Regions from separate parts of the Homo sapiens genome. Here regions 1 and 3 are each linked to region 2. Evidence: fine-mapped expression QTL. A gene starts in region 2. Each other region holds a variant in brackets. All regions are shown on one strand. Distances are from middle to middle.

What was found. PIP is the estimated chance that this variant, and not a neighbour inherited with it, causes the effect.
Region 1: its variant is the best candidate, but not a certain one, in a credible set for the expression of IGSF10 in fibroblasts (GTEx, PIP 0.75).
Region 3: its variant is the best candidate, but not a certain one, in a credible set for the expression of IGSF10 in blood mononuclear cells (TOPMed, PIP 0.73).

The regions. Positions count from the first base shown.
Region 1 is chr3:151,921,425-151,931,367 of GRCh38, forward strand. AADACL2-AS1 (AADACL2 antisense RNA 1) reads right to left here and starts at 6,751. Exons shown (of 3, transcript NR_110203.1): 1 at 6,433-6,751. LOC107986047 (a long non-coding RNA gene) reads right to left here. Exons shown (of 3, transcript XR_001740567.1): 3 at 9,128-9,252. The variant T/C (reference allele first, on the strand shown) is at 1,938.
Region 2 is chr3:151,454,505-151,464,687 of GRCh38, forward strand. It overlaps IGSF10 (immunoglobulin superfamily member 10), which reads right to left and starts at 6,557. Exons shown (of 8, transcript NM_178822.5): 1 at 6,442-6,557; 2 at 5,757-5,843; 3 at 4,012-4,206; 4 at 2,522-2,651. The coding sequence starts at 4,205.
Region 3 is chr3:151,531,827-151,542,009 of GRCh38, forward strand. It overlaps a transcript of IGSF10 not described here. Among named protein-coding and RNA genes, the nearest start is that of LINC02066, 15 kb to the right of the region's middle. The variant T/C (reference allele first, on the strand shown) is at 4,257.

The sequences.
Region 1 (9,943 bases), 470 kb after region 2:
TTACATTGACTAGTTTTTCTTTCCCCTGCTAGTGCCACAAGGGAAACTTTCATGAATATTTACCATGAGAACCTGGAGGGGTTCCCAGAGGTAAAAACCCATAAAATTGTTGAAGCCTCTCTAAGATTGGGACCTCTAGGAGTTTTTTGCTCTCAAATAATCCATACTCAACCTCTAGGAATTTGTTAAAATTAATATTTTAGTTTTTCTGCCAGCTTATGGTGCTAATGGCTTCTGCTCCAGATAAGTTGCTCCACTGTGACTGTCTGGATTCACGTATGTATTCTTTTTCTACTGACCACTATAGCAAATTACTACAAACTTGGTGTCTTAAAACAACACAAATATATTATCTTAAAATTCTAGAAGTCAGAAGTCTGAAATCGTTTACATCAAGCTAAAATCAATTAGTCAGCAGGGCTATGTTCCTTCTGGATGCTCTAAGGGAGAATTCATTTTCTTGCGTTTTCCATGCATTAATATAAGGCCAAGCACTTTTCAAACTGGTATCACAATAGTTCTCTTCTGCTACCCCTTCCAAATTTGAAGACCATTATAATTATATTGGGTCCAACTAATATTGCAGGATAATCTCCCTGTTTAAATATCAGTTGATTAGCAACCATAATTCCATCTACTACTTTAATTCCTCTTTTCTTTGTCATATAGCATATTCATAGAATCCAAGGATTACGACTTGGATTTCTCTTCAGCCATTATTTTGCCTATCACTGCCTGTCCAGATTTCAGTGGCAGGTTGCTCTGAAACCTTAGTTCTTTGATAGATCTAAGAACAGTTGTTGATTCTTAGTTTCTTCAGCTTTTTGTTATTTAAGGATAGGAGTGATGACTTCTAAGCTTTTTTTTGAGACGGAGTCTCGCTCTGTCACCCAGGCTGGAGGACAGTGGCATGATCTCGGCTCACTGCAACCGCCACCTCTCAGGTTCAAGCAATTCTCCTGCCTCAGCCTCCTGATAGCTGGGACTACAGGTGTGTGCCACCACACCTGACTAATTTTTGTATTTTTATTAGAGATGGGGTTTCACCATGTTGGCCAGGCTGGTCTTGAACTCCTGACCTCAGGGGATCTGCCCACCTTGGCCTCCCGAAGTGCTAGGATTACAGGCATGAGCCACCACGTCCGGTCGACTTCTAAGTTTTTTAGATGGTGGGGCTAACACTAGAAGTAGTAAGCACTTTTTCATACTAAATCCAGAGTTCTTAAATAGCAGTAACTGAATCTCTCACCTTTTTGTCTCTGGCATTTATTAGATGGACAAGTTTTGAGTGAGAGGATGTGGAAGGAAGGTAATCTCTCCATTAAAAACACTTTGCTTTAGATTTGAATAACTTAGAGCAAAAGATGGAATATAATAGATTGACATTTCACAGAGGTGTCTAAGTAGTCCTTTGAAAATAAATGAGGACAATTACAGTAGATACAAAGAAGACTGTCACTGGATTATGATTTGAAAGCTGTGCCCTGTATCCGGTGAAGTTTCTCTTTAAAGAACATTTTGTGCTTCATCAAAACCAAACCAAATCTAGTCAATCCTATTTCAATTAATTTGGTTAGCCATGAATTTTTTTTTTAAATAACACCTAGAACACATTATTCCAGGGCTACTAAAATATACATGTACATCACTTAAACTACTTTCTTTCCATCATCAAAGAGTATGCTTAAATACAACTCCAAAGCCAAGGGTTTAATCCTAATCTTTTAGAAATTTTTTTTTAAGTTTTGAAAATTACCTACATATTATGATTTCCTAGATATTGTTGATGAAATGTAAATGATGGGGAGGACAACTGCAAAATGACATACAGGTGTCCTGGAGGACTCCACGTGACTTTATCCCAATATATGTATGCATTATTAATCACCAGGATCCACAATTTTGTGATCATAATGTTAAGACTTTTTTGAATCTTT[T/C]GGGCGAATGTTGATATGCATTTTTTATTTCCCTCTAACAAAAAGTCTTAAAGTCTCCTCTCTCTTGTCTTTTTACAGTATAACCAGAGTAGAATGTGGATTTAGGAAATATGATAAGTTGTATACCATCTGGTTCTTTACCATAGACTATTTCCCATGCTATTATATCAGAGGGCAGAAACTGGCAGCCTCAAATAAAGTTTGTTCTGTAGATACATTTTTTGGGAGGTCAGATATTTTATTAGAAAAAATTAAATCAGTTTTTAACATTTAAAAATCAGAAGATTTTCAATTTTAAAAATCTACATTTTTGGCTTTTTTAACTGGGAACTTATTTCCACCCATCAAGAGAAGACTGATCTTAAGAGAAATGTCTGTCTTGGGGAGGAGTGCAGGATGGCAGACCTCTTTATTTTGGCAAAATTCCTACCACACTCTATTGTATTACACCCAGTATATGCATGAATTTTCTCGATAGACATTTGAGTTTGCACTCCCTGACACTTTCCTCTGCTACTTCAGTTACTGGCTCTTATCACTGACATTTAAGAATCTCTTTATAATGGCCTAGAGAATAAAGTTGCATAGGATGCCTATCCATGGAAATTCCAATGTTCATACAGAGCTAAATCTGTTCATCAGTGTTTGCAATAATTGCTATGCTTTAAAATTTGTAAACGATAGTTGAAAGGAAGTCTTGCAGCCAGATGATATCTGACTCATTTTTGTAGTATGATTAATTGTGCTATAAAAAGTATTTTTTAATCTAGTCAGGATTCTTTAGGCTCAAGAGACAAAGAATACTCAAGCCCAGATGAATTTAAAACTAAAAGTTGAGTGTTATGGTTGGAATCTAGGAGACCTTTAAGAAACTGGTAGTGAGACTAGCAGAATTAAAAGATAGGCAGGGGCTGGCTGGGTACTCTGGGCTCTCTTACTAAGTGTCTCTGTTTCTTAGTGATTTTTTTTTTTTTTACAATGTCTCTTCTTTTTTACTCACTCTTCTTTTAAATACTTTTTTGCCTCCCAATTTTAACCTTCACAATGCCACACAATGTCCATCCCAGCCTATGACTTTTTTGGCCACAGTTGGTTGGTTTTTTGAGAGGACTCTGGCCTAGCTCATCTTTTGCAACCAGCCAGAGGAACTGTAAGACAACATGCAGCTTCTGGATTGGTAGCCTTTGGATAAAAGCGTTACTTGTCCAATCAGTCACAGCCAATGATGTGTTAATACCATCATAATCACCATCATGTCATCTCTTATCATTACTGTCAATATTATTGCTAACACGTCTTAGATGCTTACTATGTACCAGACAATCTCCTAAACACTCTAGACCTGATTCATTTAATCCCAATTACAATGTGTGAGGCAGACACTCTTTTGACCATATTTTACGGATGAGGATATTGAGCATGGTTGTGGTGCTCAGCAGGGACTTGAAGGCAAGGGCAGCATCCCTTATTGCTAGCTGAGGGACAAGCATAATAGATGTGTCTAGAAAAAACTGTTTTCCCTTTGGGCTTGCAAAATAGGAGGTTCACAGAGAATTACAGGGTAATCCCTTTATTGAGAAATTACTAAAACTGGTTTGCAATTTGCTTTGTTTGCACAGTTGTGCATCTCTCTAAATGTATTACAGGCTGGTACAGTCAGCACTCGCAACGGGACAACTTCAGGGTCAGACTTTAAAGTATATAGAGCTTTTTCACTCCCATTCCCTTTTCTGTGTTCCCAGATTCCATGAATCCTTTCTTTCCACTCTCTTCCCCTTCAGTCAGTCTCTGCTGTTGCTAGCTCCTCGTGAATTCTTTAGTTCTTTCCTCTGAAGACTCAATCTCACCCACAGGTTTCGACAACATTGTGAACACGGGACTCGGCAAGGTCAAGCAGTGACCAGACTCGGGGAATACTTGAGAATAAATGTTTGCTGCCCAACCTGAAACACCTAGGTAGTCACAGATTTTGTGCAGAGTTGGTGCTTAAAGGCCAGTTGCAGGCCCTGTGGTAAATTTCAGGAATAAAGGTAGGACCTCAGTTGAGAACCAGCAGCCAAATACAAGTCAAAGTGCAGCATAATGAGAGATGCACAAATATCAAAGCAATCCAAGAAGGAGAAATTAAGTAGTGGCAGGTAAATTAAAAGTCAGAGAGAGCTTTGGAGAGAGTGAGCATGTTGGGATAAACTTTGTCAACCTAGAGGATGTGGCTTCGGTGATCTCATAACCATGCGCCGTTGGGGTGTTATGAATCTGTACACACCACAGGTGGAGGCTTAAAGACAGCTATGTGCTCATTGAACTACTGAAAGCCACACAACCCAGATTTTCTTCCTCCAGGGGGTCTCAATGGAACACCGTTCCTTCTCTGTTCCCTCCTTCCCTCTCTCCCTCCCTTCCTATAATTGCCCTTTTCAGTCCTTTTCAGGCACCAGGTACTTTTCAGGTGCTAGGGATCTAGTAGTGAATAACACCCTACCCTCGAGGAATTCACATACTAGAAGTAAAGAGAGACCATAAACAAAAGTCCTACTGGAATTTCTATTTGCCAAGATTTCCCCGATGTATTTTTTGGACGTCAACCTAAGCCTGACCAAGAAACCCTCATTAAAACAAAAGTTACAGCTCCAGCCTCTGTGTGGCTAGTGGATAAGCCTCAAGGCAGCTCACAGCTCCCTCCTGAAAGACTTGTTTGCCTCATGGTTTTTTATGGATGAATCATGCTTCCTACTAGACTCCTGAGATTTTTTTTTAAAACTCTTGTCTTAATGTTCTTTTCTTTTACCTCTTTTCTTTTTATCCTAACCCACCTTCAGAAAATAATAAGATACAAGTCATGTATAACTTAAATGTATGTAAAACTTTAGTTTAAATAAATGTACCATCTTTCAGGGACACAGCCATCTTACTTCTTAGTTTGAAAAGTTGAATGAAAGTATTTTTTCCCTATTAGAAACATTTTAAAAGTAAGGATCTAAATGAAGTGACTACTAAGAATAAAGCCTGTCCAAATATACACCTTTTTTTATTATGTGGAAGGCAGGAATTTATTCAATGTTTCCTTCGGTTTTAACCAGAAACAAAAAGTACCTCATGCCTTCCAAAAATGCTCAAAGATAACGAGGAATTACACTGCCTCATCCTAATTCTCTCAAGCTTAAATTTCTTAATTACAGTTGTTTGCCAGCAGTTCTTTATTAGTATAGAGTCAGCTTCCAACAAAGGAGGAATCATTAGTGCAGCAAGATAGCTGGCCTCTTCGGGAGGAAACAGACAGCTGGAAGTCCACGACCAATTCTCAGTAAAGGGACACTGCATGGGTAGGAAAATGGTTGAAAGTAAACTTAGGTAGCTGAAAAGAGCCATGTCTGCCATGGCCTCGTGTTGAAGTTAGAGCAGAGCACACCTATTTATTCTGACAATTTAAGACCTCATTAACTAGACACTGCTTAGGGCAAATTAATTGTGTTGAAAGAGAAACACCCATCAATACATTTATTAAGTGTACCCCTATTATTAGAATCTTTATATTTTATATTCTGGGTAGGGTGGAGACAGCGAACTTGCTCTATAAATGATTAGTAAAGTGTTTTTTGTATATTTGAGTCAGACTAAAAAGTGTCCAAATATGTGCTAATGGTAACCCAGTCTCTAAAAATAAACTATGTGCCTGTTGCTTACAATGCTGGCTTCTTTGAGATCTATTTTACATGGTTTTTCCATGCCCAGAAAAAAAGAGGTGCGGCTCTTACTGCAAACACATTTGAAAATCTATCTGATGATTTTGTAGGGCCCAGAAAGCACCTAAACATGACTCACATATTACCAGCTTCAGAGCAACTGAAGCGATCGTAGCGATTGTTTTTTAACTCCCCACAGATGTTGGAAAATTACAAGGCTTGTGCTTCATAAAAATATCACTCTACCTACGCCTGGCTTCTGCCTTTATTTTAATGAATGAGAATGTGTAAAAATTTGGAATTGTGCATGTTTGAATTCCATAGGCAGTGATTAAGATTAACTAATTGATTGTGCAAAGCTTCAGAAAATTGAAACCAACTTGCTATATTTCATGGGCTTCTATCAAAACAAAATAAAGATTTGTTTGGCCTTTTTTTTTTTTTTTCATTTTCTGCTTTTATTGCCTCTTCTTTCTCCTTACATTTTATCAGAAGACAAATATTTTGGGGGCTTGAGGAGAACAGAAAAGGGCAAATTTCTCCATGTTATAACATTTTCTTATAGAATCTGACTCTGCAAAGCAGAGAAGTGATTCAGCTAACCTCCCTCAGGTTTTCTTTCCTAAATTTTATGCATGAGAAACTGATGCTCAGAAAGATGTTCACTGGTTATTCCCAGACCCAGAAAGCAAAGTCTATTTTCTTTATTCGAGCCATGTAACTACTACCAAAATTTTTCACTGAGTATAACCAAAACTAACTTCAGATGAGTTAAATCCAAAAGGAATTGTCAAAGTTTGTTGTATACTCACAGAATTTCCGGAAAAGCTGGAATGTTAGACTCTGAAAATGAGCAGGAACCACGAAAAGCTGAGTAGCAGGAACACGACCAAAATTATTCCTCAGGAAACGTTGGGATGGGCGTTATTGAGAGGTGACAGCGTGCTGGCAGTCCTCACAGCCCGCGCTCGCTCTCGGCGACTCCTCTGCCTGGGCTCCCACTTTGGCGGCACTTGAGGAGCCCTTCAGCCCACGGCTGCACTGTGGGAGCCCCTTTCTGGGCTGGCCAAGGCCAGAGTCCACTCCCTCAGCTTGCAGGGAGGTGTGGAGGGAGAGGCGCGAGCGGGAACCGGCGCTGCGCGCGGCGCTTGCGGGCCATCTGGAGTTCCGGGTGGGCGTGGGCTTGGCGGGCCCCGCCCCCGGAGCAGCGGGCGGGCCCCGCCGACCCCGGGCAATGAGGGGCTTAGCACCCGGGCCAGCGGCTGCGGAGGGTGTACTGGGTTCCCCGGCAGTGCCAGCCCACCGGCGCTGCGCTCGATTTCTCACCGGGCCTTACCTGCCTTCCCGCAGGGCAGGGCTCGGGACCGGCAGCCCGCCATGCCTGAGCCTCCCACCCCCTCCATGGGCTCCTGTGCGGCCCCGAGCCTCCCAGACAAGTGCCACCCCCTGCTCCACGGCGCCCAGTCCCATCGACCACCCAAGGGCTGAGGAGTGCGAGCGCACGGCGCGGGACTGGCAGGCAGCTCCACCTGCAGCTCCGGTGCGGGATCCACTGGGTGAAGCCAGCTGGGCTCCTGAGTCTGGTGGGGACGTGGAGAACCTTTATGTCTAGCTCCGGGATTGTAAATACACCAATCAGCACTCTGTATCTAGCTCAAGGTTTGTAAACACACCAATCAGCACCCTGTGTCTAGCTCAGGGTTTGTGAATGCACCAATCAACACTCTGTGTCTAGCTACTCTGGTGGGGCCTTGGAGAACCTTTGTGTCTAGCTCAGGGATTGTAAATACACCAATCTGCACTCTGTGTCTAGCTCAGAGTTTGTAAACACACCAATCAGCACCCTGTGTCTAGCTCAGGGTTTGTGAATGCACCAATCGACACTCTGCATCTAGCTACTCTGGTGGGGCCTTGGAGAACCTTTGCGTGGACACTCTGTATCTAGCTAATCTGGTGGGGACGTGTAGAACCTTTGTGTCTAGCTCAGGGATTGTAAACGCACCAAATCAGCGCCCTGTCAAAACAGACCACTGGGCTCTACCAATCAGCAGGATGTGGGTGGGGCCAGATAAGAGAATAAAAGCAGGTTGCCCCATCCAGCAGTGGCAACCCGCTCGGGTCCCCTTCCACACTGTGGAAGCTTTGTTCTTTCACTCTTTGCAATAAATCTTGCTGCTGCTCAGTCTTTGGGGCCGCACTGCCTTTATGAGCTGTGACACTCACCGCGAAGGTCTGCAGCTTCACTCCTGAGCCAGCGAGACCACAGAACCCACCAGAAGGAAGAAACTCCGAACACATCCGAACATCAGAAGGAACAAACTCCAGACGCAGATGCGCCACCTGAAGAGCTGTAACACTCACCGCGAGGGTCCGCGGCTTTATTCTCGAAGTCAGTGAGACCAAGAACCCACCAATTCCGGAAACATTATGGCCGCACTGCAGAATACCAGGTATTGCCCCTACCAACCCCGGACATTGCCTGTCATTAGCGCTGTCACCAGCACTGTTCAGACTCTGGAACTCTTGTCTCTGCTACCTGCACTGGGACAAAAATCTCCTTTGTCCCTGTATCTTTGCATCACTTGCTCTAGAGTGGATTTCCTGGCAGGTTATATGCCTTTATCCTCGGTACTGCAAAATCTGCAAAAGCAAGCGCCCATCATTTCTTACTTTTGTGGACACCGAAAGTAATGGATAATTCCTTACCCCATTCCTTGCCCAAGAAAGGAAGGGACTGCATGTGATAGGCAGCCACCACCACCAGTGATATCAGCCTAACATATCATGTTTATATTATTCAGTTAGAAAAGGAAAAAATGGCCACTTTTAAACAACATTTATATAATAAACAGTTAAAAAAAAGGAAGAAGCTGCACAACCCAAAGAATGTAGAAGAAAGAGCCCCTCTGCTACATCTAAACCAAACCTGTTACTACTTTGCCATGTTACCTTGAACAGGACCCTTCACCTCTCTGCTCCTGTTTCATTGTCTTACAAATGAGGGGTTGGACCAAGTGATCTTAAGGTCCCTTCTTTTTTGATATTCTCTAACTAAAACATGACAGTATCAAAGGGGGAGACTAGGTGGCTTAGTCTGTGGCTTTGCCAATCAGATCTCAATTGGAAGAAACAATCATGAGGTTGAAAGCAGGTTTGTGCAAACAGACAAGAAAGAAAACCAAGGTATTTTTTAAAAATTGTATCATTTGTGCTCTGATCCAGAAAGGGAAATGGGTTTTTTTGTTTGTTTGTTTGTTTGTTTGTTTTGGAAATGGAGTCTCGCAATTCTCCTGCTTCAGCCTCCCGAGTAGCTGGCACTATCAGTGCACGCCGCCACGCCTGGCTAATTTTTTCTTTTTTAGTAGAAATGGAGTTTCACCGTGTTGCCCAGGCTGGTCTCAAACTCCTGAACTCAGTCAATCTGCCCACCTCGGCCTCCCAAAGTGCTAGGATTACAGGCGTGAGCCACCGCACCTGGCCAAGGGAAAGATTTTAAAATTCATCTCAAGGGGTAAAATATTTGTCACCAACTAGAAAGCAGAATATCATATCAGAAAAAATCACTCTCACCTTTGTCCATATGCTGGAAGGCAACTGGAGTAGCCATCTGGATTCATTCATAAAAATTTGCTCTGTTAAAGCAAAGTGGATACAAGAGCACTTGGTAAGCCAGGACTGTATTGTTTCTGCATCATTAAGGTTACTCCTGTTGTCATTTTCATTGAAATCATAGGCATCATCTGGCAGGCTTTTTTGTTTTTTTGTTTTTTTTTTAATTAAGGGCTAGGGTTTTGTTGTGTCAACCAGGCTGGAGTGCAGTGGCATGGCCATAGCTCACTGCAGCCTCAAACTCCTGAAACAATTCTCCTGCTTCAGCCTCCCCAGTAGCTAGCACTACAGGCGTGCACCACCACACCTGGAAATATTTTTTCATTTAATATTTTATAGATACAAGGTCATGCTGTGTTGCCTAGGCTGATCTCAAACTCCTGGCCTCAAGTGATCCTCTCACCTTCGCCCAAAGTGCTGGGATTACAGGTGTGAGCCACCATGCCTGGTCTGGCACTGGCAGGCTTTGGTTTCTAATGCCTAACTTGCCAGCTACTTCCTCTAATCTAATTTTTTACAAACCCAAGAAGCTCTGAAGATGAGACAAAATAATTTTTTGAAAAATTTTCTTTATAAACACACACATACATATATCAAAAACAGAGAGCCTGGTCATGACATAACATTGTATTGAAGGGGTTCTTTTTATTTTTCTCAGATCTTAGGTTTATTCATCTTTTATTTTTCACCATAGAAATCCTATGACTCATAAAA
Region 2 (10,183 bases):
TAACTATTGCAGCTGGGTAATGGTCCATTACAGTTCATTATATTCTTTCTACTTTTGTCCATGGTTGAAAATTTTTATAAGGTTTTTTTTTTAAGTCTTAGTATTTCAAGTAAATTTAAGATTTCTTAAACATAAATTTTTCATAAGAGAGACTATTGATTTTAATTTATTGAGTTATAGTTCACATGCCATAAAATCCACCTTTTAAAGTGTACAACTGGCTGGGCATGGTGGCTCCCAGCACTTTGGGAGGCTGAGGCGGGCAGATCACTTGAGGCCAGGAGTTTGAGACCAGCCTAGCCAACATGACGAAATCCTGTCTCTACTAAAAATACATATACACACACAAAATTAGCCGGGCATGGTGGCACACACACATACTCCCTAGCTACTCAGGAGGCTGAGGCATGAGAATCATTTGAACTTGGAAGGTGGAGGTTGTAGTGAGCTGAGATTGCACCACCGCACTCCAGCCTGGGTGACAGAGCAAGATTCTGTCTCAAAAAAATAATTTAAAAGTGTACAATTTATTGGTTTTTAGTATATTCATAGAGTTGTGCAACCATATCCACTGTTAGAAACTTCTAAATAAAGTTTCTTTTTTGCGTTTTGTTTTTTTTTTTGAGATGGAGTTTCACTCTTGTTGCCCAGGCTGGAGTGCAATGGAGTGATCTCGGCTCACTACAACCTCCATCTCCTGGGTCAAGTGATTATCCTGCCTCAGCCTCCTGAGTAACTGGGATTACAGGCATGTGCCACCACGCCTGGCTAATTTTTTGTATTATTTAGTAGAGATGGGGTTTCTCCATGTTGGTCAGGCTGGTCTTGAACTCCCAACCTCAGGTGATCTGCCCCCCCTTGGCCTCCCAAAGTTCTGGGGTTACAGGTGTGAGCCACTGCGCCCGGCCTAAAGTTTCTAATAAACTTTATTTTGCACCTTAAAATAAAAACTAATACCCATTAGCAGTCATTTTTTCCTATCCTCTTAGCCCTTCACAACCACTAATTTACTTTGTTTCCATGGATTTGCCTATTCTAAACATTTTATATAAATGGAATCATACACTTTATGGCATTGTGTCTGGCTTCTTTCACTTAGCAAAATGTTTTCAAGACCTGTCCCTCTCATAGCATGTATCAGCCCTTCATTCCTTTCTTTGCTGAATAGTATTCTACTGTATACATGCACAACGCTTTATCTATCATTGGTTGATGGACATTAAGAGGTGTCTTATACTTTTTGGTTATGAGTAATATGACTAATTTTGAGTTGCAATTAAAATAATTTTGAATATTTCAATAGTGCTCAGGTATTCTCCAATTCCCTCTCCAATTACCAGTTGAACATACTCTCTCCCATAAAGAAAAAAGAAATGCTAGTAAACACCATTTCTCATCATATTTTCCTGACTTGGCCTGAACTATCATCTCTGTCGAGAATGCTTCTCTAGAATGCCAAGACCCCTAATAAGAAAAGAAAATATAAGTTGGCAACATAGAAGAGCTTTGCCCCAAATGTAACCTGGGAGTTCAATCTCCAACTCAATGTTCCTCAACAGCCATTGAAAATTTGGTCGAGAGAATAAATATATGTAGAGAATTCTATAAAGGACATGCAATCCATCTATTCCTCCGAAGACATACATTCCAAATAGAGCCTGATTAACCAAATCAACAGAATCACATAGCTACATTATACTCTATTGCTCTCACCATGGTTATAACCTCCCTTACATAGCTCTGGTATATGTTAGAAGGCTCTATGAACACAGGTACTTCATCTTTTACAAGGATATTATTGACTTTATTTTATGGCACTGTATTTTATGAGGAGCTTTGTAAGACATTTCTTTCTGATTTAAAAATCATACATGGCTGTGCTTTTCCTGAACAGTTTAAGTTTTAATAGATGTCATGTATTGTTAGCGTCTTGAAAGCTTCAAGTCCTACTTATAGCAGACTTAAAGGTCTCTATGTATGCATTTCCTCATGTTCCCTTTATTCTTTTCTCTAGGCTTATTTTACCTTTTACTTTCTCACTTACTTTTGTGATCATTCTTGCATGATTTTATGCATTCTTGGGAGTCCTCTTAACTTTAAAAAATTGAACAATGTAGAACATGAATAAGTAAATAAAATGAAACTGAAAATAGTACATTGATTTATATAAAACTATTATCTGTCTAAGATAGTCATTACTTTTAGGAACCACATTCAATTCCCAGATAAACATGACTAGAAGTGTCCTTTTAGGATTAAATTTTGAAGGTTTATCGTCTCTGGGTATTGATTTTTTTTCTATTAGCTTGAGGTAGTAGAAAACTTGCCTCAGAGTTCTTATTATTCTAATTTATACACACAGTTCCACAGTTAAAAATCAGTTAACATTCTCCATTGACGTCTGCTTCTAATTTACAGAATGTTGATTTTCGTATTGTGTAGAGATAGGCAGCCTTTGAAGGTCTATCTCACAGGTCCCACCTTACCTCTTTAACCTGCCCCCTCTCTCCATCAGTCTCACCTGCAAGGCCTGCAAATCTGAGAAGGTCTTGTCAGGGATTGTGTGAATGCCATTGCTGTGAAGCATGAGTAACTCCAGTTTGGTCAGGCCAGAAAAATCTGTTTCCATCAATCTAACCAAGCTGTTGTATCTGAAATAAAAAATGACATTCTAGGCATAAGCTAAGTCTGTCAACTAAAGTTCAAATGTCATAACCAAAATAAACACAAGAAAACTCAATACCTCTCTTTATAACTGTACTCTATTGAGACAATCAAATGCTTCAAAAACTGAAATTCACCAGATGCCACAGAAGGTCGGCTCTCTACCCAGTTCTTGCCATTTCAGTTACAATCACCCCCCTCATATTCTGGGAACTTGTCACATTTCTTATCATTTTCAAACTTTTATATATATGCTGTTCCCTCAGGTTGGAATGCCCTTGACCTCACCTTTTTCTATTTGTGAACACTTAATATCTAGCCCATTCTTTCATGACACTATCTCCTCACCACTCCCCCAGGTGGAATTCGTCAGCAGTGGTTAAGAAGCCTGGGCTCTGGAGGCCAGGCTTGGGCGTCTCGTTTGGGTATGATTACGAGCTCAGGCTCAACAGAGTAGTGGTACAACCCTGGGTAAAATCAGCAGGCTTTCTGTGCCTCAGTTTCCTCATCTATAAAATGTAAATAATAGAACTCACTCCAAAGGGGTTATGAGGATTAAATGGATGCAGTGCTTAACCCAATGCCAGCACCTACTGAGCACAACCTTAATGTTAGCTCTTAATATTAGTGACTGTCTCTAAAACACTTTGTATGCTCTATTAGTTTTTATTAATTGTACTGACCGTACATTTGTCTGGTCTTTTTAACGATCAATACACATCCTAGAAGTGAATAGTATATCTTACCATTGTATCCCCAGTGCATAGTACATGCTCACTAATGTCAAATAAACGATGCTAAGTCCAACATGTGTATTCAGACACACACAGACTTTTTTTTCATGAACGTTTAAAATACAGTCATATTTTTAAAAATTTAATTAGGCATCCATTTTAAATAAGTTTGTATGGAAAGAAACCAAAGGGCCTATAAAAAGGATACATATATATATATATGTATGTATGTGTGTGTGTGTGTGTATTATATAGGCAGACACTTCCAGTTACCCTGTCATCTCTTATGATGAATGATCATAACCCCAATAGTTAACAGAAACTATATCATTTTCCAGCAAAAATGTAGCCAGAAAGAAGCTTTTTACCGTCATGAGTCTCCCAACCTACCAAGAGGGACTTCAAATTCTAGAAGAACTTTCTCCTAATAAAAGTTTACCAGGAAAAGTTTTCTTATTGCCCCCAACAAACAAAATTCTCATGAGCTCATTTCAGAAAAGAAATATTGTTAAAACAATTGAGATTCATCTCCCAAAGTCATAGATGTTTGAGGGACAAGTCACTGCTGCGACTGATCCCTCTTTGAGAAGAGGAAACATGAGGTCTCACACACCCTAAATTGATGCGTTCCACATTGGGCGGGATGCTGTCTGGGATGGAAGTCAGGTACCGAAATGTGCAGTGTACCTCCGTAGGCATATAACAGGCACAGCGGCGAGGACAGGCCTTGCCCCCAGGGGTGGCGACCAGGCAGATCACAGCAAAGGAGACCAGCAAGCAGGTGATTCCTCTGCCTTTTACCTTCATCCTGAAAAAACATCATACCTCAGAGTTATAAAGAGTGGTGGAGCAAAGTCCCAGGACCACCACACACTCACTCTGGGAATCTGGGAGACCTTCTTTAAGGGTCGTAAGTGGTCAATTCCATTCCTACCCTTTGTGGTCATATGCACTCTTTACAAAACTATAGTGTGTGCTGCTGGCCTCACACTGCGCTTTATGATCAAGTGGGATATTTACTGTTGTGAAAATTTCTTCACAGCTTCTCACTTCTTTATGAAAACCAGCAATCCCTATTACTCAGGCATTCATTAAAAGGGAAACTGGAAACCATAAGAAAGATTGTGACAACTAAAATATATAGAATTTAGTTTCCTTTATATACATTAATTCTTTTAGAGTAACTTTCAAGAAACTGATTATAACAGTAATATCTGTGCATAATAAAACATTTGGAAACTGTAATTAAGCAGTAAAAAGGAAAAAAATTACTCAATCTCACCACTTATATAATCCTTAAACATGTTGTTGTATTCCTTTCCAGCCTTTTTCATCTATTGTGTGTATATGTATAGGTGTACATACATTTACGTGTATATGTGTACATGTGATCAAACTCAATTTTGTAACACATTTTATCATTTCATATATAATGTTTTTTCATTTTATTAAACCTTCTTCAGAAACATTTTTTAAAGGTTGTAATAATCCACTGGAAGGGAGAATAAATCTCTTTCTAACCGGTTTTCAAGTCCCTGCCAAAAAAAAAGACACATTGAACACTTCACTGCCAAGTAATGACCATAAGCAACAGCGACTGACCAGCTGAGAGGGCTTGAGCCATGCTGACCCTGTGCAGGCATGATGCTGTCTGCTTTTGCTCAGCTTCGGACATCTCTCTGCCTTTTTCCTTGGTCCCTCCTCCAGCTCATGGCTGCCACAGGAGGTGGGGAGCATAACCAGGGAAGAAATATGCTCAGCTTGTCAGAAAAAAAAAAATGGTATCTGTTACCCATATGTGGGGCAAGCCCAGGAATTCAAACCTAATTCTCTCCTGAAATGCAGGATTGAAATAAACTCTTTATTGTGCTTTTCCAAGCAAAATGACCTTCATAATTTGTAATAAATCCCACCGTTCTGTGGAACAGCATGATGTTGGATTCCACCAGCAACCACCCTTTAGCTACAAACTACACTGAGAAATAACACTGGGGCTGAACTGCTTGGATTTTCATACAGATAAAAAGATGATGGATGTATTATTATAATTTAGTCCAAATTAAAATTTAAGATAGGATTAATCATATGACCACTTTTGCCATCGTAACCACCTGGTTACAATAATTTTAAATAAGCTTTGTATGATTGGAGACAGCATTTCCACCTTATCATTAGATAAACAAAGGAAGGAACAGCAGGATGAAGGTAATTCTCTCGTTCAGCTTAAATAAAAGTTCTGGGTATGCCCACGTTCAAATTATTTAAAAGAGGATCAATAGCATAAGACAACACATGAATAAGGGATTCTCACAAACGTAAGGCTGAAAATGTACATAATGAAATAGGAATTGGCAATACCTGAGCTCTTCTTTCAGGTCCTGAGTCCTCTTGTGACATAGGCAGAGACAGAAAATCTTCCCAGGAAATGGAAAATTGTGTCCAAACCTGAGGGAGGAAAAGTTCTCTGCTCCAAAGTGAGCAAAAAGCCTTATTCTTTTTGGCTTACAGCCAGGAGTAATGCTCTTCAGGGAGACCTGGAGCCGCTTCCACAGCTTCAAAGTTCTATAACTCATAACCACATTAACCCAGAAGCGTTCTTTTATTATGATGCTTGCTGTTGCAGAAACAAAAGGCTAAGTGGAGGTTTTTAAATTTCCTTTCTCCTCCCTCAGTAGTGTACTTAATACTCCTTAAAGTTATCACTTGAATATTAACTACTACTAATCACTCCATTTTGCTCCAAAGTCCCAAGAGCTTCTCCTCAAATTGTCTTTTTTGGACAAATCTGTCACAGATGTCTCCATCTATTGATTGTCTTTCCTCAGTGTGTGTTTTTTTTTTTTGCCTGGCACCAGTCACCGAAGAATTGTCGTGTGCTTTCATGCCCCCACCTTCTCCGGGTGCGTCTTCCCTCCCCCACCCTCAGCCCTCCCCGCCCCAGCGCCCGCTTCTGCAGCCACGGTACTCGCTCCATTCCCACGCCAAGCCCCAGCCGGCGTGGGGTTCCAGCCCTTTCCGGGGAAGGATTGGCCGAGGCGCTCACCTGTTTGCCCTGGTGACCAATGGGCTCGAGCTGCCCGGGCTAGGTCCCGGGCTCGGTCCCGGGCTCAGCTGCTGGGGTCGTGCGGAGCTGGTCCGGAGCTCTGGGAGGGAAGGAAGGAAGGCGGAGCGAGGGCGGGGGATGAGCCCGACTTCTGTGTCTGGGGACGCGGCCGGGGCTCAGCAGCACAAGGATGAGAAACGACCACCGGGCCCCTCTTTATGTTTACGAGCGTGTGGGAAGCTAATTCGCCGTGGCTTCACTCTTTAAATTCCCAGGGCTTTCTCCTAGCAAGTTGGCAGGTCCTGGCTGGGTGGCAGAGCAGTTTCAGTGGCCGCCCGTTCATTTCCTCCTTGACCTCTTCCACCTGTTGACAGGTGGGCCTTTTGGTTTAAGGGTTTACGTAAATCGCCGCAGGCTGTCCTTGGTCCTGTGGCTCCCAAAGTTCTATTTGAAGGCTAAGTTAGCGTTAATGACCTGTGATACCTGCAGTGTCAATGTTTTATTTAAACCCCTCTTTTAAAAATAAGTAAATTATATTGCGTATATTTAAGGTATACAACATGTTATGGGCTATATACAGATAGTAAAATGGTTACTATAGTGAAACAACATATCCATCATCTCACATAGTTACCCCATTTTTGTTTTTGTGACACGAGCAGCTAAAATCTACTCTTTTAGCAAGAATCCCAAATACCATACAATTTTATTAACTATAGTCCTCTTGCACATTAGATCTATATAAATGTATGCTACTGTGTATTCTCTGATCTACATTTTTCCATTTCCTTTCTCCAACCCCTATAACCACTATTTAATTCTCTATCTCTGTATAATCGACCTTTTAGAAAAAGATTTCACATATATAAGTGAGATCATACACTATTTTTCTTTTGGTTTCTGGCTTATTTCACTTGGCATAATGTCCTCCAGGTTCATCCATGTGTGACAAATGGCAATATTTCCCTTTTGTTTTTTAACTGCCAAACAATATTACATCGTATATAGATGTCTCAGAGGAATTCTTTTAAATCATTATCACAGAACCGGATTTAAATACTACTATTTCTGCTTGGATTACATTCTCCTTTCTCATCTCCAACCCTACCATCTGGAGGCAGAGATGCCTCCAGAATCACCTCTACCAACTTGCCCACATGTAATATCTCCTGCAATTCTTGGTGGGGCTCCCAATACTCATAAACACTGAGTTAACATAACTAAAATGACCTTGTTTCCTTCCACGTAGTTACATAGCACTTAAGCTTTTGATGACAATTTGCAATGAATGTTTTAGGGCAGTGGATCTCAAGATAGGGTCACGGGTCCAGCATCAGCATTACTTTGGACTTCGTTAAGATCAAAAATTTGCGGGATCCATCCCAGACCCACTGATTCAGAAACTGTACGAAGGAGGCTTAGGAGTCCATGTGTTAACAAGCCTTCCATATGATTCTGATGCAGCTACAATGTGAGAATTGCTGGTTTAGTGAAATAACTTCTGAAAAATGTTTTACAAATACCAACTCATTTCAGCCTCACCATAGCACCAAAAAGCCTAAAAGGAAAGTATTTATGTTATTCCCATTTTACAAGTAAGGTACATGAAGGAAAGTGACAGAACTCCAGGCCATGTGGCTTGTGAGTAGAAAAGCCGTTAATTCAAACTCAGGCAGTCTTGCCCTATGGTCTGAACGTTTAACCATAAAGTTGTGGCTGCCTCACTTAGCTAAACATGGATAATGTGCCATATCCCATGCCGAGCATTCATGTGATTTATGGTTAGTAATAAGTCAGTTACCAAAGTAGAATTATAGAATCAGAGACTCAGAGTTAGAAGTAACCCTAGAAGCATGTATATGAACATGGTCTTTAGCTCTGCAGAGCTGACAAGATTCTTTTAAATTAAAAATTCACGTGATGTCCAAACTTGGATGCTTGCTTTGGAAATGTGGCATATTTGTCGGGTTTTGGCAGCCACAGTTTATCTTTCTCCCAAAGCTCCTTGGTGACCAACCTCATGGCTTCGTATTCTTTAGTCAATTTCTAACCCAGGTCTGGACTTCCAGACCTCAACTAGGATGAACCACAGAAAGATGACAGCAACATGTTAAACTTATTTTCCTAGGCTTGTTACCTGGGGTCATTTTCTTGCTATCAATTTCAAAGTGAACTCCTGATAGGAATGTTTGCTTCTCTTAAGAATTTTTATGAGATAAATCTCTACAATTGCTTTATGTCAGAGCTCTTCTCTGACGTATTTTCTACTTTTCATGTCATCTTCCAGAATTATTAGAAACCTGAGTCATATTGGCACCAATTCTAGTTCCATTTGCTCCACTTAATAACAATTCTAATATTTGTAATTACTTTTATAGTTAGAGTATATATGTGTCAAAGCCTTTATATGTATTGCTTAATTCTCAGAAATATTCTGATGAGTAAGTGCTAAAATTATACCAGTTTTTCAGATGAGATTGCTGAGGATAAAGAATGCTAAATGATTCAGAGCCAAAATACAATACTGAATTAATTTTAAAATTGTAAAACCAATGCTTTTAAGCCTTACATTTTCTGGTTTTTTTTTTTTTTTTTTTTTTTTTTTTTTTTTTTTTTCTGAGACGGAGTTTTGCTCTTGTTGCCCAGGCTGGAGTGCAATGGCGCAATCTCGGCTCACCACAACCTCCACTTTCTGGGTTCAAGCAATTCTCCTGCCTCAGCCTCCTGAGTAGCTGGGATTACAGGCACATGCCACCATGGCTGGGCGCAGTGGCTCACACCTGTAATCCCAGCATTTTGGGAGGCCAAGGCGGGAGGATCACCTGAGGTCAGGAATTTGAGACCAGCCTGGTCAACATGGTGAAACCCCGTCTCTACAAAAATACAAAAAAAGCCTTATATTTTCTATCTTCTTCCTGCTTCTATTTATAAAATTTGGAGAGTCCACAGCATATCAAAGAAAAGTTTCACCACTCTTTTTTCTAACCATGCTTAATAATGCAATATGTTTCTATAGATTCATATGGTTTACAAATCACTTTCACCTTTGAACATGGCCTCATTTAATAAGAAATATATGAAATTCAATGATAATGACTTTATTTTGTAATTGTAACTTTATTTTGCAGAAGTTAATTGAGTGTATAATTTGCCAAGATCTCAGAGCTGAGCATAGCGACTCTGAGTTAATTGTCAATCTGAACTCCTAAACCTGTGTTTCCTGGACTACGGTAATTTACCTACGCTTTAAGGATGGTTTGACATTTTAATTACCTCTCACTATAGTTTTACCTAATGATTTTCTTTAAATCCTCCCCCTCTTTTTGTTACTCTTTTCTTAAACAGTATTGTTGGTAAATTCTCAGGCTTTGTATTTTTTCTAGTAAACACGACAATAAATATACATCTTCTTCACCTTTTATATCACCCCTGAGAATTACATTTCCCCTCATCTCTAGGTCTTTGACATTATTTGCTGTCTTTTCTAGTAATTACTACTTCTTACTCCTCATCCTTAATTTATCATCCATACCATCCTTTACATCACCCTCCTAATCAGAGTATTTATTTAACACCAATCAACCAAGCGCAAGCAGTTACAAGTCATAGATCACCTGACAATCAGAACAAGCTATGAATTTTAAAACTGACTTATATATGTGTCAACAGATAACCAAATGCCAAAATTGTTACATATCTTTTAATCAGGCACAATCATTACCACCTCCCAGCTCCACAATTT
Region 3 (10,183 bases), 77 kb after region 2:
TAAGATCAGAGCAGAACTGAAGGAGATAGAGACCTGAAAAACCCTTCAAAATATCAATGAACCCAGGAGCTGGTTTTTTTTAAAAGATCAACAAAATAGACCGCTAGCAAGACTAATGAAGACAAGAGAGAAGAATCAAATAAATGCAATAAAAAATGATAAAGGGGATATCACCACTGATCCCACAGAAATACAAACTACCATCAAAGAATACTATAAACACCTCTATGCAAAGAAACCAGAAAATCTAGAAGAAAAGAACAAATTCCTGGACACATACACCCTCCCAAGACTAAACCAGGAAGAAGTCAAATCCTGGAACAGACCAATAACAAGTTCTGAAATTGAGGCAGTAATTAATAGCCTACAAACACCACAAAAAAGTCCAAGGCCAGACGGATTCACAGCCGAATTCTACCAGAGTAACCAAGAGGAGCTGGTACCATTCCTTCTGAAATTGTTCCTAACCATAGAAAAGGAGGGAATCCTAATTCATTTTATGAGGCCAGCATCATCCTGATACCAAAACCTGGCAGACACACAACAAAAAAAGAAAATTTCAGGCCAGTATCCCTGATGAAGATTGATGTAAAAATCCTCAATAAAATACTGGCAAACCGAATCCAGCAGTACATCAAAAAGCTTATCCACCAAGATTAAGTCAGCTTCACCCCTGGGATGCAAGGCTAGTTCAACATACCCAAATTAATAAACATAATCCATCGCATAAGCAGAACCAATGATAAAAACCACATGATTATCTCAATAGATGCAGAAAAGGCCTTCGACAACACTCAACAGCGCTTCATGCTAAAAACTCTCAGTAAACTAGGCATTGATGGAATGTATCTCAAAATAAGAGCTATTTATGACAAACCAACAGCCAATATCATACTGAATGGGCAAAAACTGGAAGCATTCCCTTTGAAAACCGGCACAAGGCAAGGATGCCCTCTCTCACACTCCTATTCAACATAGTATTGAAAGTTCTGGTCAGGGCAATTGGCAAGAGGAAGAAATAAAGGGTATTCAATTAGGAAAAGAGGAAGTCAAATTGTCTCTATTTGCAGATGACATGATTGTATATTTAGAAAACCCCATCATCTCAGTCCAAAATCTCCTTAAGCTGATAAGAAAAGTCTCAGGATACAAAAATCAATGTGCAAAAATCATAAGCATTCCTATACACCAATAGCAGACAAACAGAGCCAAATCATAAATGAACTCCCATTCACAACTGCTACTAAGAGAATAAAATACCTAGGAATAAAACTTACAAGGGATGTGAAGGACCTCTTCAAGAACTGCCAACCACTGCTCAAGGAAATAAGAGAGAACACAAACAAATGGGAAAACATTCCATGCTCATGGATAGGAAGAATCAAAATCGTGAAAATGGCCATACAGGCCAAAGTAATTTATAGATTCAGTGCTATCCCCATCAAGCTACCACTGAGTTTCTTCACAGAATTGGAAAAAACTACTTTAAATTTCATATGGAACCAAAAAAAGAGCCCACATAGCCAAGACAATCTAAGCTAAAAGAAAGCTGGAGGCATCACTCTGACTTCAAACTATGCTACAAGGCTACAGTAACCAAAACAGCATGGTACTGGTACCAAAACAGATATATAGACCAATGGAACACAACAGAGGCCTCAGAAATAACGCCACACATCTACAACCATCTGATCTTTGACAAACCTGATAAAAACAAGCAATGGGGAAAGGATTCCCTATTTCATAAATGGTGTTGGGAAAACTGTCTAGCCATACGCAGAAAGCTGAAACTGGACCCCTTCCTTACACCTTATACAAAAATTAACTCAAGATAGATTAAAGACTTACACGTAAGACCTAAAACCAAAAAAGCCCTAGAAGAAAACTTAGGCAATACCATTCAGGACATAGGCATGGGCAAGGACTTCATGACTAAAACACCAAAAGCAATGGCAACAAAAGCCAAAATTGACAAATGGGATCTAATTAAACTAATAAGCTACTTCACAGCAAAAGAAGCTATCATCAGAGTGAACAGGCGACCTACAGAATGGGAGAAGATTTTTGCAATCTATCCATCTGACAAAGGGCTAATATCCAGAATCTACAAAGAACTTAAACAAATTTACAAGAAAACAACAACAACAACTCTTTCAAAAAGTGAGTAAATAATATGAACAGACACTTCTCAAAAGAAGACATTTATGCAGTCAACAAACATATGAAAAAAATCTCATCATCACTGGTCATTAGAGAAATGCAAGTCAAAACCACAATGAGATAACATCTCACATCAGTTAGAATGGCAATCATTAAAAAGTCAGGAAACAACAGATGCTGGAGAAGTGGAGAAATAGAAACACTTTTACACTGTTGGTGGGAGTGTAAATTAGTTCAACCATTGTGGAAGACAGTGTGGTGATTCCTCAAGGACCTGGAACTAGAAATACCATTTGACCCAGCAATCCCATTACTGGGTATATACCCAAAGGATTATAAATCATTCTTCTATAAAGACACATGCACATGTATGTTTATTGCTGCACTGTTCACAATAGCAAAGACTTGGAACCAACCCAAATGCCCATCAATGATAGACCAGATAAAGAAAATGTAGCACATATACACCATGGAATACTATGCAGCCATAAAAAATGATGAGTTCATGTCCTTTTCCGGGACATGGATGAAGCTGGAAACCATCATTCTCAGCAAACTAACACAAGAACAAAAAACCAAACAAGTTTCTGTTCTCACTCGTAAGTGGGAGTTGAACAATGAGAACACATGGGTGGGGAGGGGGGTCATCACACACTGGGGCCTGTCATGGGGTGGGGAGCTGGGGGAGGGGTAGCATTAGGAGAGATTCCCAATGTAGATGACGGGTCAATGGGTACAGCAAGCCACCACGGCATGTGTGTACCTATGTAACAAACCTGCACGTTCTGCCCATGTACCCCAGAATTTAAAGTGTATGTGTGTGTGTGTGTGTGTGTGTGTGTGTATGAAGGTTTGGGCAGGGTTATAGGAATCTAGAGGAAACTACAGAATCACCTTCACTGGATGCATGAAAAATGTAGTTCCATCCAACTGTTCTGTCACAGTAGTTACAAGCATACACGAACTTTGGAGTCAGACTGATAAGGGATCCAATACCAGCTTTATCAGTTTCTATGGGTGTGATCTTTGGCAATTAAAAAAAAAAGCTATCTACATTTCAGTTTTCTCATCTATAAAATTAAAGATGATACTATCTCTAAAGGTTTTTGAGAGAACTAAATGAGAAAATGTAACTCAAATGGTAACAACATCTGACACAGTGCAAAAACAATAACTATTAAATCTAGTTATCATCCCTTATTTTATTCCTAGTAGAGGTATTATAATGTGGGCCACCACAGAAACTTATTTTTGAGGATATTTGGCTGTAATAAAAAATCCCAAATAAAAGAAAAAAAATAACAAAATCACATACTTTGCAGCAACATGGCTGCAGCTGGAGGCTATTATCCTAGGCGAATTAATGCAGAAACAGAAAACCAAATAATATACTTCTCACTTATAAGTGGGAACTAAACACTGGATACTCATGGACATGAAGATGGCAAAAATAGACACTGGGACTACTAGAAGGGGAAAAGGTTGAAAATCTAACTATTCGGTACTATTCTCACTACCTGGGTGAAGGAATCAATCGTACCCTAAACCCCACCATCACTATATATACTCATGTAACAAACCTGCACATGTATGCTCTGAATCTAAAATAAAAGTTAAAATTATTTTATTTAAAATAAGATATAAAAGTTCATATTTAGAATTAGAATTTACAATAAATTACATATATATAAAGTATGGTAGGTATTACAAATAGTGCAAGTCAGGAAATCTTTCAATTCTAATTATTTGCTTACATGCCTCTAAATTAACTTTTTTGGGCTGCATTTTCTTTGGTTGCTTCATTCTGTCACAAGTCTTACATTTTCAATAAAGAGAATAGAAAAATAATCAAGTCTTTCCTCTAGAATGATAGAGCAAAACTCATTTTTGAAATTGATGGCTTCGCAGTTTCTTTCAACTTCACTGTTTATTATTTGTAATCCTGTACATGGAGCTCCAGCTGCAGCTTCTTGCTGAGATGGCACTACTTTCAGGGGCAGACTTTCATATGTTTGCAGCCCCTTGATCTCAGTCTTCATATTCTTTGGAAGCTGCAATTTCTAGGTTGGCTAGGTCCTAGCTGCCACTGTGTCCTG[T/C]CCCACCATGGCTACTAGTCCTAGGGGGATTAAGGGGATGGGAGGTGGTGGTGAAATGCCATGAAGTCTAGCATTGACTTCTGAGCAGGAAGCAGGGAAAAAATCTCATTTGTGCCTTTCTCCTTGGAGTCAAAGTCTGGATACTTCAAGAGGTCCCCTGGGACAAGGTTGTCACTTGGGCTGCGTGGATGTGAAGGTAGGACTGGCAGCCTCTCAACTCCACCTACGGATCTAAGACCACCACGAGGGCAGAGAGGGTGACCCTCAGTCTGAGGTTGATGATTCTTTCCCATGTAGAGTTTATTTAGCAAATAAAAATGTAGGTTGCATTTGTTATTTGGGACCTACTTAAGTGAAAATGTTATTCATTGTTTATCTGAAATTCAAACTTAATTGAGCATCCTGTATTTTATTTGGCAACCTTATCACTGTGGCCCTACATGACAGCTTTGAAAAGGGTCCATGCAAGGAAGGGATCCTGAAGCTTAAGTTTCATTAGCATTGTAAATCTGTCCTGATTCTACTGTAAAGCTTAACCTCAGTTACTGTTAACCAAGGTTAACAATAAAATGTTCACCAAAAAAATGCCGAATCTAAAGTACCAGATTTGACTAGAGGCTAAAAAAGATTTTGTTTTCTCTTTACTTTTCCCCTTAAAGTTCATTTTGTTCAATTTGGCCCACTAATTTAATATGGGCCAATATTTTGAAGTCTTAATTCTGTAATACATCACATTAACTATGTGAACTACTTCTAGCATAATTTGATTCTTAAATTTGATATGCAGGTGATAAACCAGTCCTTTTAATATCAGAAAGACACAGGCAAATTACCTTGGCTGATGGGTATTGAAAGAACTATTATTCTAGGTCCTGTTGCTTTTAAAACAGCAGGCCCAATAAGAGTGAGATCCCCAAACTACAGAATTTAAGTTTGTTCTTTATTCGAGCATTTATTCTTTCCAATAACAATATTTGCTTGGGATGATTTGCAAGGATTTAATATGGGGGGACTGTGAGGGAAAAATTTTTGGGTAAGCCATCTCAAAGGCAATTTTTTTGCCTCCCTAAAGTTGGGCACATTAGTATTTGCTTTGATCTTGCATTGTTACTTTGGCCAATCAGTTGTGGCTAGAGCAGGAGTGTAGGATTTACTCAATACGTATAGCACTGAGTCATAGCAACATAGGTAGTAAAGAATCAGCTTGGGTTACTTTCTCTCAAAGGTAGACAGATGCTCAAAGATTTGTGACTTTCCCCTGAAGTCTGAAGAGAATAACAAGCTATTGATTTTTGTCAAAATTATAGAGAAATATTGATGAGGTTGAGGCCGAGAAGAAAGAACTATAGCCTGTCACTAGGCAAGTCTGCACTCTTTAGATGGAGACAACATCATTAAATCATTCAAAGCCAATTGTTCTACCATCTAGTTCATTTTTCCCCATCATGTACATGATGCTATGATGAAGCACTTGACTAATTAACCGAAATAGGGTTTATACTATGCCTTCTTCATACACCAGTTTAGCCACACTGTCAAAAACCAAGCAGTGAAGTTAGTCTGTAATGGCCTGTTATTGACAAAGGCATTCTAACTTTAGTCATCACTGTTTCCTCTTCTAAGTGTTCATGGACTCTTAAAAAAAATAATAATCTCTTCTAGGATTTTTGTCAAGCTCTCTGATCTGTAATTCAATAAACCTACCTTCTTTCCCTTCTAAAAATTGGAGCAACATTTTCCATCCTTCAGTCTCCTGGAACCTCTCCTGTTTTCCATGGTTTCCCAGTAATTACCCACAGTGGTTCAGTAATTATAGACATACGTTCTTTCTGTTCCCCAAGATGTAGTTTAGCTAGGCCAAAAGATTTGAAATCCTCAGAGCAGCTAGGATCCCTCTCATGAGCCCTCCTGCTTCCTCAGTTTCAGATTCCTCTGACTATTACTCACTCCTCACTTTTCCTGGGTCTACGACTTGGCAGAGATCAAAATTGTGGGATTCTTAATAGTTGCCAAACTTCACGTTTAGTTAAGGGTCTTCAGAAGGACCTACTAATTGTCAGATGCAGAGTCAAAGTCTCATTCTGCGACTTCACTGATAAACATATTTGATATTCTTAGAGGTTTCTTAGAATTGTGATGGGTCACTCCTGGGACCACCATAACACCAGAAACACAAAGCCCATAGAAGTTCATTATTGCCCACTCATTATTGCTTAATATATTTCTTTAATTATTAACTAAAAGCTTAAAAAGGCTGTTGCCCTTTTTATAACGAGAAGGACCTGGATTTTTTGTGGGTCTGTGCTTGTTTCATTTGGTTTTTAATTCTCTCTCACTTAAATAAGGACATTATAATGGTTTAAATGGTTAAATACCTCACTTCACAGCCAAGTAATAGTAGAAGAAACGTAAGACCACAGCCTAAGTAGAATGAGAAATGTAAGTCTTCGGATTATTCATTGGAATATAAAAGTGAGAAAAAGGGTATCTAGTTCCAATATTTAAACAAACACAATCACCAAGACTTTGATGCTGTTTTTCCATTAACACTGCTGACATCAGACCCCGAGCAGAATTTCCATAAAGAAATTTAATTTAAAATGTCCAGGACACAATATTGCTTTAAGAACATTACTCTTTCAACCCCCAAGTCTAGCGCAGTGTCTGGCATGTAGTAGTCACAGAACAATGTTGAGTTGAATTTACAAGCCCCACATAAAGAATGTAAGTTAAATCTTGGACCCTTAAAACCATTATAATTGTTTCACAGGCAGCAAGGGCTCAGGGAAAAAGAAAAGGTTTTAGAACAAAACATGCATTGTGAGAACTGTTACTCCAGCAAACGAAAACACATCCCAATAACAATAATACTTCAGTTTCTGTGGGCATTTGAAGAGGCACGATAAAGAGCCAGCTTTTTTTCTTGCCTGTGTTTTTAAAAACACTGGAAGAGGAACAAAAATTTCTGGCAGATGGCGATCAAAATATCAGCTTCATTGCTGTTGGAAAGGGGCCTAGATTTTGGTAAGGCTAGACCTGCAAATACAGATCCCTAGAATTAGGGACTTACTTTAATCCTTGCTTTTTTCCAGCGGAGTCCACATGTTACACATGACTACAGAAGAGTCACAAGTCACAGCAGTCCAGACAAACGCTCTGCTTCCCACGTGGAGGCTTGCTCTGTAACCCGAGAGAAGACCAGATGCAGACGTGAACTTTCGCATAGCCGCTCTTAAGAGGAAGGGGAAGAGAGGAGCTAGCTATGACTGCCCTCTTCCTTCTTTTAAATTCATCAAATAGGCGAATTCACTCCACCTGAGTGTTTGAGTGTTAAGGGCGGAACAAGAAACTGGTGCTTAGAAAAACCAGAGGAGTGGAGCATTGTTTCTACTTAAGGGTCTTTTAACACATCTTGGCTTAAAATATGTTTACATATTCATCTTCTTCCCAAACTCAGGATGGCAAGCAGAGTACATATTTTCCCTCTTTTTACAGTTAAGAAATGGAGATGCAGAAAAAAATGTGTCATAGTCACTTGAAACTCATTGTATCAATATGAATCTGTAATCCGACCACCCCCACCTCCAACACCCAGCTGGTTGTTCTCTCAATAGATAGTGAAGAGTGATCCTTGATGATTATTCTTAGGCTGTAATCCTTTCACCCAGCATTATTTCAACAGCATCTATCTATCTATCTATCTATCTATCTATCTATCTATCTATCTATCTATCATCTATCTGTATCTATCATCTATCTATCTGTCTATCTATCATCTCTGTGTGTGTCTGTCATTCGTCTGTCTGTTCATCCATCCATTCATCTAAGAAACAAGAGGTGCAGGGAGGGAATTTGTAGTGAGAGGCTTCTGACAGAACTGGCCTTAGTCCGAGCCTAAGTAACCTAAATAAGTTTTTCATCCCCTTAGCTGGGCGTCAGTGGTGTCATTTTGTGGTGGGAAGTGAAAGAAGACTTTCTAAATCGATGAACAAATCAGAAGCCTATCCCTCAATTAATTGTCATAAAGAAATCTCACCCATCACAACCAAATAACATAATTTAAATTTTTTAATAGAAGTATGAAATAAACACAGAAAAGCGTATATATCATAAGTGTACAGCTCAGTTAATTTTCAAAAATTGAACATGTGTAGCCAACACTAGATCGAAAAACAGAACATTACCATTTCTTCTGATCTATATTATTCTCTTCTGGTCACCCTCACCCAAGGGTAAGTTTACCTGAATTTCTAAGATAATACATTAATTTTGCCTGCATTGTACTTTTTATGAATGGAGTAATACAGTATGTACTCTGGTGTCCAGCTTCTTTTGCTTAACATTATTTTTTTGAGGAGTATCCATATTATTGTGTATATTTGCAGATCATTTATTCTCATTAGTGTGTTGTACTGCAGTGTGTAACTAAACCACAGTGTAGTTATCCATTCTACTTTTGATAGCCTGTGAGAAGTTGACAGTTTAGAGCTATTATAAATAGTAGTGATGTGAACATTCTTGTTCGTACCTCTGGTGCACATATATCTATGTACTTCTGTTGACTCTATGCCTACAGTGGTATTGCTGGGTCAGAGGGTATGTATTTGTTTGGCTTTTGTGGATGTTAGCAGTTTTCCAAAGTGTTTACTAGTTTATACACCCACCAGCAGTGTACAAAAATTCCAGTTGCTTTACATCCTCACAAGCCTAGTCCCCCACGAAAATGCACACGAACCAATCCCTGCAATCTGTGAATATGATACCTTGCATGGCAAAAGGAACTTTCAGAGCCACAGTGGAGATCCACTAGTAATTTTGTTGCTCTCTGAGGATCTCCTCAGTTTTTCACTGTTGAACCCTGAACAACCATCTACATTTTAAGTGTGAAGGTTACAGAAGAAATTATTGGAACAACTGCAGAGGGGAGACATCAGAGGGAGTTCAGTTCCAGATAGTGGAAATCATGCTGAAGTTTGTATAGTGTGTATGGAACAAATGATTCCGTTTAAGGTTAAAAAAACAAACCTTAAAATACCCTCAAAACCTCAGTAGTTTAATTAAGTTCATTACATCTGATGTGATTAGCAGTAAGATTCATAAACTATCAGTTTCTCCTACATCAGTCATGTTTTTGACTGTCCACAGTTATCTAAAACATATTTTACAAACTTCATGGCAGAAAGTCAGATGTGTCTGTTGAAGTAGAATGACTTCAAGACAGTATATCTTTACATTATATGGGAGGCTAACAAAACAGTAAAATTTGTTATGATACAGAGCTGAGTCATGTCAAAAAAATCATATTTTAGAATTTGATGTCAGTGAGATTAGCTAGCACACTAAAGTTCTTTGTTTAATTTGCTAGGCCATAAATTCAGTTTTCTTATAGTCATATAGATGAGATTTAAACACATTACTGAGTAAACAAAGTACTTTTAGAGGTTTGCTCATGGTTGTATTTTAAAGTTGACACTATTCTTTTAGGAGGCTGATATTTCTAATTTTATATTGTCCTTTTTGATAAATTGGCTTCTCTCTCTCTGCATATGTTTTAGTTTTTTCTTTGTAGTATCTCTATTTTTTATTATTTCATCTTACTAATACCTCCTCATGTCTTATGAAATTCATCATCTTTTCCTCCTTCTCTCGAGGACATACAGAAGTACAATACATAAATACATATACATACATATGTGTGGATGAGTGGATAGATAGATGTATGTCTGGGGCCCAAGCTAGACCAATCAGCTGTGGAGAAAATGGGGGTCAAAGCAAGCTAAGCATGGCCACTTTCTCCCTTAAGAAAAGCAACTTTCCTTAGAAAGGATTGTGTATGCGGCAGGTAGCATGACCAATGTTCTTAACACATTCTTTGGCTTCATTTTAATCTCTTTTCCTGAGTTGTTCCTTAAATTACTGTTGCTTTC